2 separate regions of the Homo sapiens genome follow, and region 1 is linked to region 2. The links come from fine-mapping of genetic effects on gene expression. A gene starts in region 2. The other region holds a variant in brackets. All regions are shown on one strand. Distances are from middle to middle. Region 1 has its middle 43 kb from the start of LINC01168. Region 2 holds the start of LINC01168 (long intergenic non-protein coding RNA 1168).

Region 1 (5,366 bases), 44 kb after region 2:
CCTCCTCCGTGCCAGCTGGGACCAGAAAGAGGGTCCTGGGCAGAGCCTCTGGCTCGTGGCCAAGGATGGACCAGGCCTTCACCGGGTGACAAGCTTCTTAGGGACTTCCCTCTGCCGCAGAAGCATCTGGGGGTCTGGTGTGGCTCGGGGCTTCCTCCGGACCCTGGAGGAGATGGTCTGGCTATCCAGATGGGAGTCTGCACAGCAGCGTAGGCCACAGGCCTTGTCCTCTCACAGCCCCAGAGGCTGCAAGCCTGAGATCAAGGTGCCCGCAGGGCTGGGAAGGGTCCTCACGTCCCCACAGCGTTCCTCTCAGTGCATGTCTGTGTCCACATGTCCCTTTCCTTCAGGACCTCAGTCATGCTGGACCAGAGCTCACCCCATGACTAAACTTTAACCCACTTGCCTTCGGAAAGGTCCTGTCTGCCAGGAAGGCCACACCCAAGAGCGAGAGACGGGAACCAGGGACACAGTTCCACTCACACAAGGCCACCTCCCGTGGACAAGTGACCTCCTGTGGACAAGTGACCTCCCGTGGACACGTGGTCCCCACAGGACGAAGAGTCCATCAGGCCTTCCCTGGGCCAGGCAAGGGTTTAGCTTCTGACGACCACGTACTCTGCGGTCTCAGGTGGACGTCGTCCTGCGCCGTGAGGAGGGCCCGAGGGAGAGCGCAGCCAGGGCCCCGGCTCATTCCACAGCCCAGTGAGCAGCCGCGCCTGCCTGGCTGTCCAGAAGGCTCTGGGACCCTGGGACACTCAATGTGGCTCAGCACACCTCACAGGAGGATTTGGCGTCTCCCTGGGGGTGAGGAGCCACGCCTGCCGTGGGGGCACAGGGGGCTCAGGGTGGGAGCAGGTGACATTTGGGGGAAAGGAAATGAGCTCCCCAGGATTCACAGTACCTTCACATCATACAGGGGTGACAGTCGGAACCCGATCTGAGATGGCTGGGGCTTCCCAGCACACGGGCCTCAGTTTACCTTCACCCAGGGCCAACTGAATGGCTCCTGGGCCTCCACTCTTGGGAGGGGCTGGCCGAGGTTTTATGTCCCAGTTGGCCCAGGGCGCTCGGTCACATGGGACATTCCTGCCTGCCAGGTCCCTGTTCCCCTCCCAGCCCCCAGCCAGGCACATGGCAGAGGGAGAGGAATCTCACCTGCCGGCAGTGGTGACAGCCAGTCCCTGGGGAGGAAGCTGTCCTGGAGGGGACACCCAGGCCAGGCTTTGAGGCAAGGAACCAGGGCACAGCTGGCCTCCCAGGGCCTGGGTGGCCTTTGAGAGCCAGGGTGTGGGACAAGTGAGTCGGCACAGAGGCCTGGACCCAGATCGGCCGGGCGGCAGCCTGGAGATGCCCACCAGGCCCAGGTGACGTCAGAGTCAGTCTGGGAACAAGGCAGAGGGCCGGGCACCTTCCCAAACACAGCCCCACCCCCGCGGCCTCTATTGGGCAGAGGCAGGAAGTCCGGGGGTTCTGGGCAAACCTGACCCAGAGGCCAAGGGTCCCAGGAAAGGGAGCCCCACAGCCTAGGCACAGCTGGCACCTCCCTGGAAAGAGGGGCTGGAAACAGAGGGGCAGATTGTCAGTAAGCTGAAGAATTGTCCGTAATCACGGGACGGCCTTAGTTATGTTTCCCACACTTAGGACTTGAGAGAGACGGCAACTGAATGCTTGTCATCAAAAGAAAAAAGTGGAAAAAAACAACCCAGTAGGCTTAAAATGAAGGAAGAGCATTCACATTTACAACACTGATGAACGTAGCTTCATCTTTCTCTCCTGAAAGTTTCCCAGCCTCCTAAGTGCTCTGTCCTTGCCTAGAATGTTTTCCTTTAATCTACATATTGGGTTAGACCGGCCTCCCCTTTCTCTCACATCCCAGGAGTGGTGGATGGGTAAGACCCTGCCTCGGGACCATGTTTGGAGGGTCCCGCCAGCCGTGCTCCGAGCGTCAGGGCAGCTGTGGTGTGCGAGGTGTTTGGACGAGACCAGGAGGACCGGCACTGGGCCACCATCTGGGAGCGTCTCTCTCACACCTCCCTCGGTGACGGGGAGGGAAGGAGGGCCGGGCCCCCAGGAGCGTCTCTCTCACACCTCCCTCGGTGATGCGGAGGGAAAGAGGGCCGGGCCCCCCGGGCCTGTGAGAGAGGGTCTCAGAGGAGCCTACTGCTGCAGAGCCCGATCTGGTGAGGGGGTGGCGGCTCACATCACAGAGCCACAGGCTGAGTGTCAGGCCGGGCCCCGCAATTCTGGAAGATCCAGTGCGAAAGTGCTTGCTCTGCTCCAAACCCGGGTCCTGGTCTGGACACAGCAGCCTGAGCCCTGGGAAGAGATTCAGCAGCTGCCCGGGAGCTGGGCGGGGAAGGGCTACTCACCCGGACATTGCCCAGAGTGTACTCGAGGGGCCCCTAGCTCACTGCACGGCAGCTGGGAACATCTCCTGACCCACAGGGCCAGGCTGAGCCACAGGGTGGACAAAGCATCCCCCTGCACTCTCCTGGACTCCAGGCACAGATTCTCTCAGACTGACTCTGCAATTCCAACCGAGGTCACACTCCCAAGCCCAGCACAACAGCCTCGCTGGAGTCCATCTCACGCCAGCACAAACGGCCTGCCTGGACGCAAACATCAGGTATGGGCTGCACCAGGCCCCTGCAGATGGGTACGACCCTCACGCCACTGCGAGCCGCAGCCTCAGCGCACTTTGGGAAGAAGCAGAGAAGCATGATAATGTCTGGGGCTCAATGTGGCTGTGATTACCATGAACAGAATAAGCCTGAAGGAGAACGGCTCTTTCCCCAACTTCAGAGTCAGGAGAGCATGTCTGTGAATGCCCACTCCCGCCTTGGAAGGAGGTTTAACCTGAGAAAAATGGTCCTGGGGGCTGTGGTTTCTGAGACAGCAGCCGTGGGGAGGGCCAGGAGAGGCCCATGCTGACACAGAGGCAGCACCATCTTTCCTAGGCAGGAAGGGGCCAGATTCTTCTCCAGAGAAACTGACGTGTCAGGAGAAAACCCTTTGGCCCTGTCCCTGCAGAGGTCATGAGACAGCCAGGCCCCACCCTCTCTCAGGGCGCCAGCCAGCCTTCCAGTTACCCACACTTGAATGTGAGTGACGCCCTCAGGCCACCAAGGGCGTGACTCTCCCACACGGGAGTGGCCCAGAACCAGACCCAGGGCAGGAAGTAGAAAACTTTAAAATATTTTGGTCTGCACAGGGCTCCTGTCCCCGGCACCTGGGGCTCCTCCCCGGCCCCTCTGCTCCAGGTCAGCAGAGGAGGA[A/G]AGAGAAGGAGGTGGGGTGCTAGGAGGGCTCCTGGGGGCTGGACCTGAGATAATGGACCTCGGGAAGTCAGGTTCCGTTGGCCAGACACGCCCATGCAGCCTCCCCAATGCAGGGAAGGCCGGGAAGTCCCTGCTCAGCGGCTGCCACCGCCCGAGCCCCGCACACACTCCCTCCTGAGAGCAGCCCGAGAGTCCTGTCTTCAGGAGGCAATACTTAGCACTCCTCATAGCACTGGGTGCGGCACGGGGCAGGGCCTGGGGCAGGCGGTGCGTGGTGACACCTCTGGGCTGACGGCCTGTTCTGTGGATACAAACAGCGTGGAAGAGAAAGTGGCTTCAAATCAACACAACTCGGCTTCAAAAAGCAAATCCCTGGGATGCCCTCCTGCCTTCAGCCTGAAAACGGCCAGCGCGATGCTGCCGCTTCTGTGGTCCGTGCGGCCTGCCTTCTCCAGCGGGGTCAGGCGGGGCGGTCCTTGCCCCTGCAGCCCACCCCAGCTCCGGCAGTGCTGGGAACGCCAGCGGCTCCTCCGCCTTAGGAACCAGAGGTGGCTGCCTTTGTCCCTCATCATGCAGCCCAGAGCCAGGAGGTCTGTGTCCAGGGATGTTCCCTGTGTCCAGTTCAGGGCCAGGGGGTCTGTGCGGAGATGTTCCCTGTGTCCAGTTCAGAGCCGGGGGTTTGTGTCTGGAGATGTTCCCTGTGTCCAGTTCGGGGCCAGGGGGTCTGTGTGCGGAGATGTTCCCTGTGTCCAGTTCAGGGCCGGGGGGTGTGTGCGGAGATGTTCCCTGTGTCCAGTTTGGAGCCGGGGGTCTGTGTCCGGAGATGTTCCCTGTGTCCAGTTCAGAGCCGGGGGTCTGTGTCCAGGGACACTCCCCTCTGTCCAGTGTGAGGCGCGTGGGCCGGCTGGAGGTCCCTCCCCGAAGGTCTGTCTCACAGCTGTGGGTGCCGCAGCACTGGGACCAGGCTGCACCCACCGGTCTGGGCCTCAGGTTCTGAGGGCTGCTGCTGGTGCCTGGGCCAGGGAAAGGCACGGTGGGAGCTGGTCTCCGGCTCAGAGATGCCCAGCTGCTGGCTCAGGCTGGGCCGCAGGAGCCTGTTGTTCCTGCATCCGCCTGTGGTGTTAGCGTGTGTGATGTGTTAGCATGTGTGATGTGTGTTAGTGGGTGTGGTGTGTGTTGGTGGGTGTGGTGTGTGTTGGTGTGGTGTGTTAGTATGTGTGATGTGTTTTGGCATGTGTGATGTGTTAGTGTGTGATGTGTTAATGTGTTACCTGTTAGCATGTGTGATGTGTGTTTGTGTGATGTGTGTTAGCGTGTGTGATGTGTGCTTGTGTGATGTGTTTTCGTGTGTGTGATTGTTAGTGTGTGTGATGTGTGCTTGTGTGATGTGTTTTAGCACGTGTGATGTGTGTTAGTGTGTGATGTGTGTGTTAGTGTGTGATGTGTGTTAGCGTGTGTGATGTGTGCTTGTGTGATGTGTTAGTGTGTGTGATGTGTGCTTGTGATGTGTTTTAGCACGTGTGATGTGTGTTAGTGTGTGATGTGTGTGTTAGTGTGTGATGTGTGTTAGCGTGTGTGATGTGTGCTTGTGTGATGTGTTTTCGTGTGTGTGATGTTAGTGTGTGTGATGTGTGCTTGTGTGATGTGTTTTAGCACGTGTGATGTGTGTTAGTGTGTGATGTGTGTTAGCGTGTGTGATGTGTGCTTGTGTGATGTGTTTTCGTGTGTGTGATGTGTGTTTGTGTGATGTGTTAGCGTGTGTGATGTGTGCTTGTGTGATGTGTTTTTGTGTGTGTGATGTGTTAGTGTGTGTGATGTGTGTTTGTGTGATGTGTGTTAGCGTGTGTGATGTGTGCTTGTGTGATGTGTTTTTGTGTGTGTGATGTGTTAGTGTGTGTGATGTGTGCTTGTGTGACGTGTTTTAGCACGTGTGATGTGTGTTAGTGTGTGATGTGTGTTAGTGTGTGATGTGTGTTAGCGTGTGTGATGTGTGCTTGTGTGATGTGTTTTTGTGTGTGTGATGTGTTAGTGTGTGTGATGTGTGCTTGTGTGATGTGTTTTCGTGTGTGTGATGTGTTAGTGTGTGTG
Region 2 (5,366 bases):
CCCTTGAATTCCCTCCAGGGTAAAGCCAAGAACCGTCGGGGCTCAGCCCCACCTGGGGGCTCCCCTGCCCCGCACCACCGAAGTCTTGGATGGGTAACTGGAAGATGCCATTGTGAATAGAAATATCCTTTCTCGATGAATTAGAAAATGAAACCAACTCCTGCATTAATTTTACACAAATGACATCAAGAGGGTTGAGAGAAGAAGGTGGCTGTCCCCAGCTCCGGGTCCCTGCCAGCCTTATGATAGTCTTCTAAGGCCATCTATTATTTCCTGAAATATTCATAGAAGTATGAAAAATTGAGCATGAGTGGTTTGCTTTGTGCTTCGTTATTTATTAAGCTTGTGACTTATTTTTCTTTTGGCGAAGAGCTTCCTATCTTTTCCAAGAAAAAAAAAGTGGGCCAGAATAACAGCCCTCATGTTTTGAGCTTGAAATTAAAATTTCGAAGACCTCCCTGTACAAAGTGAAGCTGAGTAAAGATGTTTACAAATGCAGATTGAAAATGAAAAATGCAAGGGCCTTTGTGACTCATTTTATGAATATGTGTTTTTATCAAAGAACTCCCATAAGTTGACTCGGAGCCTGATTTGCATCTAGGGTTTCATCCTTGCTTGGTGGTGGACTGGCCGTCCCTTCATCCCTTCTATAAGTCCATTAACATCCCTCCCTCCATCTGTCCGTCAACATCCCTCCCTCCATCCATCTGTCTATCAACATTCCTCCCTCCCTCCATCTGTCCATCAAAATCCCTCCCTTCATCCATCTGTCTATCAACATTCCTCCCTCCCTCCATCTGTCCATCAACATCCCTCCCTCCATCCATCCGTCCATCAACATCCCTTCCTCCATCCATCCGTCCATCAACATCCCTCCATCCATCCGTCCATCAACATCCCTCCCTCCATCCATCCGTCCATCAACATCCCTCCCTCCATCCATCCGTCCATCAACATCCCTCTCTCCATCCATCCATCCATCAACATTCCTGGCACCTGCTCAGCATCGGGGGGGCATCCCAGCCCTCACAGGGAGCAGGCACAGTAGGTACAGGTAGAGGCTCCCTGCCTGCTCAGCCCCAGGCCGCTCCTGAGAGCACCCCCAAAGCCACAGGTCACAGCACATTGCCCCTGATTTTACCCCATTAGGAGAGGGAAGATGTGCCCAAGGGGACTGGTGAGCCACAGGGAGGCGGATTCCTGGGCTGCAGCTTAAAACAAGACACTTGTTCCCTCATGGTTCCGGAAGCCAGAGTCCAAGATTGAGGTGTAGGCCTGCGCTCCCTCAGAGCTGCTCGCTCCAGGGAGATCCCTCCTCGGCGCTTCTGCTTCTGGTGACTCCGGGTGTCCTCAGCATCGCCCAGCCCCACCTCCATCTTTGCAAGCCTCTCCTTTCTCCCATAAGGATGCCAGGCACCGGATTTCAGGCCCATACTAAATCCAAGATGATCTCATCATGATATCCTTAACTTTTTACATCTGCGAAGACCCTGTTTCCAAACTGGTCACGTTTGTAGGAACCAGGGCTTAGGACTCGAACATATCTTTTGGGGAGACAAGATTCATCCCCCATGAGCATGGGTTCAGAGAGCAACGGCTTTAGCACTACCGAGGTCTTAATCCAAGCTTCCTGTCAGGATTTAATACAAGGGAGGCTGAACTGCCGGGGAGCTCAGAAATGCACGAGCAAGACATGAGCGTAGGGGAGGTTCCCGGGGTGCCTCGACTGTCCAGGCTTGCAGCTGCAGGTGGAGAGGAGGCAAGGCTGTTTGCCCATTTCAGCCTCAGAACAGTCACAGCCCAGCAGCCGGCGGCCTGTCCATGATGACCATTCTGCTCCGGAGCCTACACAGAGGGCACTGTTCACCCTGCGGCCGCCTCCCTGCGCTCCAAGGATCAGCCTCATGATAAGGTCAGAAAGAACCTTGGCTTTAGGGTCTGTCCCGCGTGGCCACCTGTTCTGTATGTTAAAACCGACTTGCCTGCCATTTCTCTTCTTATCCCTCACACCCACCCACCCAGCCTGGGCCAGGCCTGGTTCTAGGGCGCGGCCAACGGTCGGGGACAAAATATTCATGGTTTCTGGGTTCGTGGTCAGGCAGTTTGGGTGGACACAAGCAAGTGCCACGTAAAATAAGCAACGGTGAGAATGGTTATGAGTCGCAATGACACTGTGAGGCACTTTAACAGGCTCATCGGCGTGGCCCTAGGCCCTGCCCTCTGTGAGCCCAGGTCACCCCCAGGACGCCCAGCGGCTGCTGCGCCACCTCCCTCCTCCCACTGTGGCCAGGCCTGGCGGGCGGGTGCTGCCTCCCGACACGCACACTTTGCCGGGGCAGGTCCGCGCCAGCGCCGTCGCCAGAAGAGCCTCACAAAGACGCGGCTGCCACCGTTTGGCGTCTTTGAAGACTGTTCAGCAGGTCTGAGGATGAGCTGCTCTGAGGGTTTTTCCCAACTTACCATTTTGATACAACGTCAAACATATGTAAAAGTCACAAGAATACGACAAGGAACTGCCATTAGAGCCTTAGGCGAATTCACCAACTGTTCCCACTTCTCACCGGTGTCACCTTCCCACCGTTCCCACTCCTCACTGGCGTTACCTTCCCTCCGTTCCCACTTCTCCTCAACGGCGTTACATTCCTGCGGTTCCCACTTCTCACCGGTGTCACCTTCCCACCGTTCCCACTCCTCACTGGCGTTACCTTCCCACCGTTCCCACTCCTCACTGGCGTTACCTTCCCTCCGTTCCCACTTCTCCTCAACGGCGTTACATTCCTGCGGTTCCCACTTCTCACCGGTGTCACCTTCCCACCGTTCCCACTCCTCACTGGCGTTACCTTCCCTCCGTTCCCACTTCTCCTCAACGGCGTTACCTTCCTGCGGTTCCCACTTCTCACCGGTGTCACCTTCCCACCGTTCCCACTCCTCACTGGCGTTACCTTCCTGCCATTCCCACTTCTCCTCACGGCGTTACCTTCCTGCCGTTCCCACTTCTCCTCAATGGTGTTTCCTTCCCGCCTTTCCCACTTCTCACCAGCGTTACCTTCCCGCCATTCCTACTTCTCCTCAACGACGTTACCTTCCCTCTGTTCCCACTTCTCACTGGCGTTACCTTCATGCTGTTCCTACTTCTCCTCATGCCATTACCTTCCTGCCATTCCCACTTCTCCTCACGCATTACCTTCCTGCTGTTCCCAATTCTCTCTGGCGTTACCTTCCTGCTGTTCTGCCGTTCACGCGTGTTTATATGTGTTTGCATGTGTTTACATGTGTTTGCATGTGCCTGTGTCTGCATATGCGCATTTCCCTGAATCGACGGAGGGTGAGTTGAGAGTTGAAGAAATTATGCCATTTTACTGCTAAATACCTCAGCGTGTACTTCCTGACAAAGACACTTCTTTTCATTACCACAGTATAGCTGTCAAAATCAGGAAAGTTCACACCAATGAAATATCTAATCCAGAGTCCATACTCAGATTTCATCAATTGTGCCTAAACATCCCTTTAGCTTTTTCCCACTACATCCTGGATCTAATCCAGGACCGCGGGCCTATGACCTTTTCAAAGTCCTAATTTCCATCCTTCTTCAACAGTTCTTGTAGCCTTTCTTTGTATTTCTTGACCTTGACATTTTTGTGAGTGTTTGTCAGCGACTTTGCAGAGTGCCCCTCAGTCTGGGTTGACGTTCGGATTTTCCATTTTATTCTAAGGTGGTTTTGGTAAATTGTATTATTCAAGGACTTTCCCCCATTTCATTGTAATTGCCAAATGTATTGGCATAAACTGGTTTATCATGTTCCCTGATTTCCCTTTTAGTGACTGTAGAATCTCTATATTTCCTCTTTCATTTCTGATATTGGCAATTTAGGCTTTTCCCTCTTTATTTTTCTTTTATCTTGGTTGATCTGTTTTGTGTTTTTGTTTGTTTAAGACAGGATCTCACTCTGTCTCCTGGGCTGCAGTGCAGTGGTGCAATCATAGCTCACTGCAGCCTCAAACTCCTGGGCTCAAGTGATCCTCCTGCCTCAGTCTCCTGAATAGCTGGGACTACAGGCATGCAACACCACACCTGGCTACTTAAAGAAAATATTTTTTGGAGAGATGGGGTCTTGCTGTGTTGCCCAAGCTGGTCTTGAACTCCTGGCCTCAAGCAATCCTCCTGCCTTGGCCTCTGAAAGTGCTGGGATTACAAGTGTGAGCTTCGGTGCCAGGCCTCCTGATCAGTCTTATGGGGTCTGGCTCTGTCACCCAGGCTGGAGTACAATGGTGCAATCTCAGCTCACTGCAACCTCTGCCTCCCGGGTTCAAGCCATTCTCCTGCCTCAGCCTCCCGAGTAGCTGGAACTACAGGCATGCACCACCACACTCAGCTAGTTTTTTTATTATTATTATTTTTAGTAGAGACGGGGTTTCACCATGTTAGCCAGGATGGTCTCAATCTCCTGACCTCATAATCCGCCCCCCTTGGCCTCCCAAAGTGCTGGGATTACAGGCGTGAGCCACCATGCCCGGCCCTGATCGGTCTTATGATCAGTCTTATAAGTGAAATGGGAAAGGTTCCCTTGTTCCCCTTGCAGGGTGTGCGATGGGGGTGTGGCTTGCTTCTTCAGTGCCCCGATGCTCAAACTAGCCAGGGGAGCATACAGACGAGCAGGCTGGGGGGCTCTGACCCCATGGCAGTGTCTAGGGGTGAATGTTTCCAGCTCCTGACGCTGCAGTGGACATGTGCTACCATATGTTCTTACTTTGCCATCTATAGGTGGCTTATGTTCACCAGCTCAATTAGACCTTGTTGCAAGGACAGAGGGCATTCCGTATCCAGGATTCTTGCCTTGGTGCACCGGAAGAATCGAATCAAACCTGGGCTTGGAGAATGACTGCAATGTTTTATTGCGTGGAGGTAGCTCCGGGGAAGTCAGAGGGGGATGGAGTGGGAAGGTTTTCCTCTGGAGTCAGGCCACTTGGCAGCCTGGTCTCTCCAACTGCCCTGGCCAAACTCCACGTCGTTCTGCCGATCGGTCGGTGTCCTTCTGGCGTGCTGGTGACTGTCGGAGCGTTGCTCACCACGTCCAGCTGCCCGTGTGTTCCTCCACTGATGTGCTCCTCTTGATGTCCACCTGCCTGTGTGCCTGCCTGCTAGAGTCTCAGGGTTTTTATAGGCACAGGATGTGACAGGGGTGTGACAGGCCAGGGGAGGTCTTGGGAAATGCAACATTTAGGCAGGAAATTCCTGTCCTCACCTAGGTCCGTGGGGGTGGAGCCCTAGCCAGGGACCACACCCTCCTGTACCCAGCACTTCCCTTCCCCCTTCCCTATCATTTAAAGGGACCACACCCTTCCCCTCCCAGCACTTCCGTATCATA

Evidence for each region. PIP is the estimated chance that this variant, and not a neighbour inherited with it, causes the effect. A credible set is the group of variants that fine-mapping cannot tell apart.
Region 1: its variant is the best candidate, but not a certain one, in a credible set for the expression of LINC01168 in lung (GTEx, PIP 0.50).

Annotation. Positions count from the first base shown.
Region 1 is chr10:133,006,302-133,011,667 of GRCh38, forward strand. It overlaps LOC112268067. Among named protein-coding and RNA genes, the nearest start is that of LINC01168, 43 kb to the left of the region's middle. RefSeq lists an enhancer at 1,610-2,437. The variant A/G (reference allele first, on the strand shown) is at 3,279.
Region 2 is chr10:132,962,583-132,967,948 of GRCh38, forward strand. LINC01168 (long intergenic non-protein coding RNA 1168) reads left to right here and starts at 2,952. Exons shown (of 3, transcript NR_046231.1): 1 at 2,952-3,325. LINC01166 (long intergenic non-protein coding RNA 1166) reads right to left here and starts at 2,707. Exons shown (of 2, transcript NR_120627.1): 1 at 2,604-2,707. RefSeq lists an enhancer at 1-148.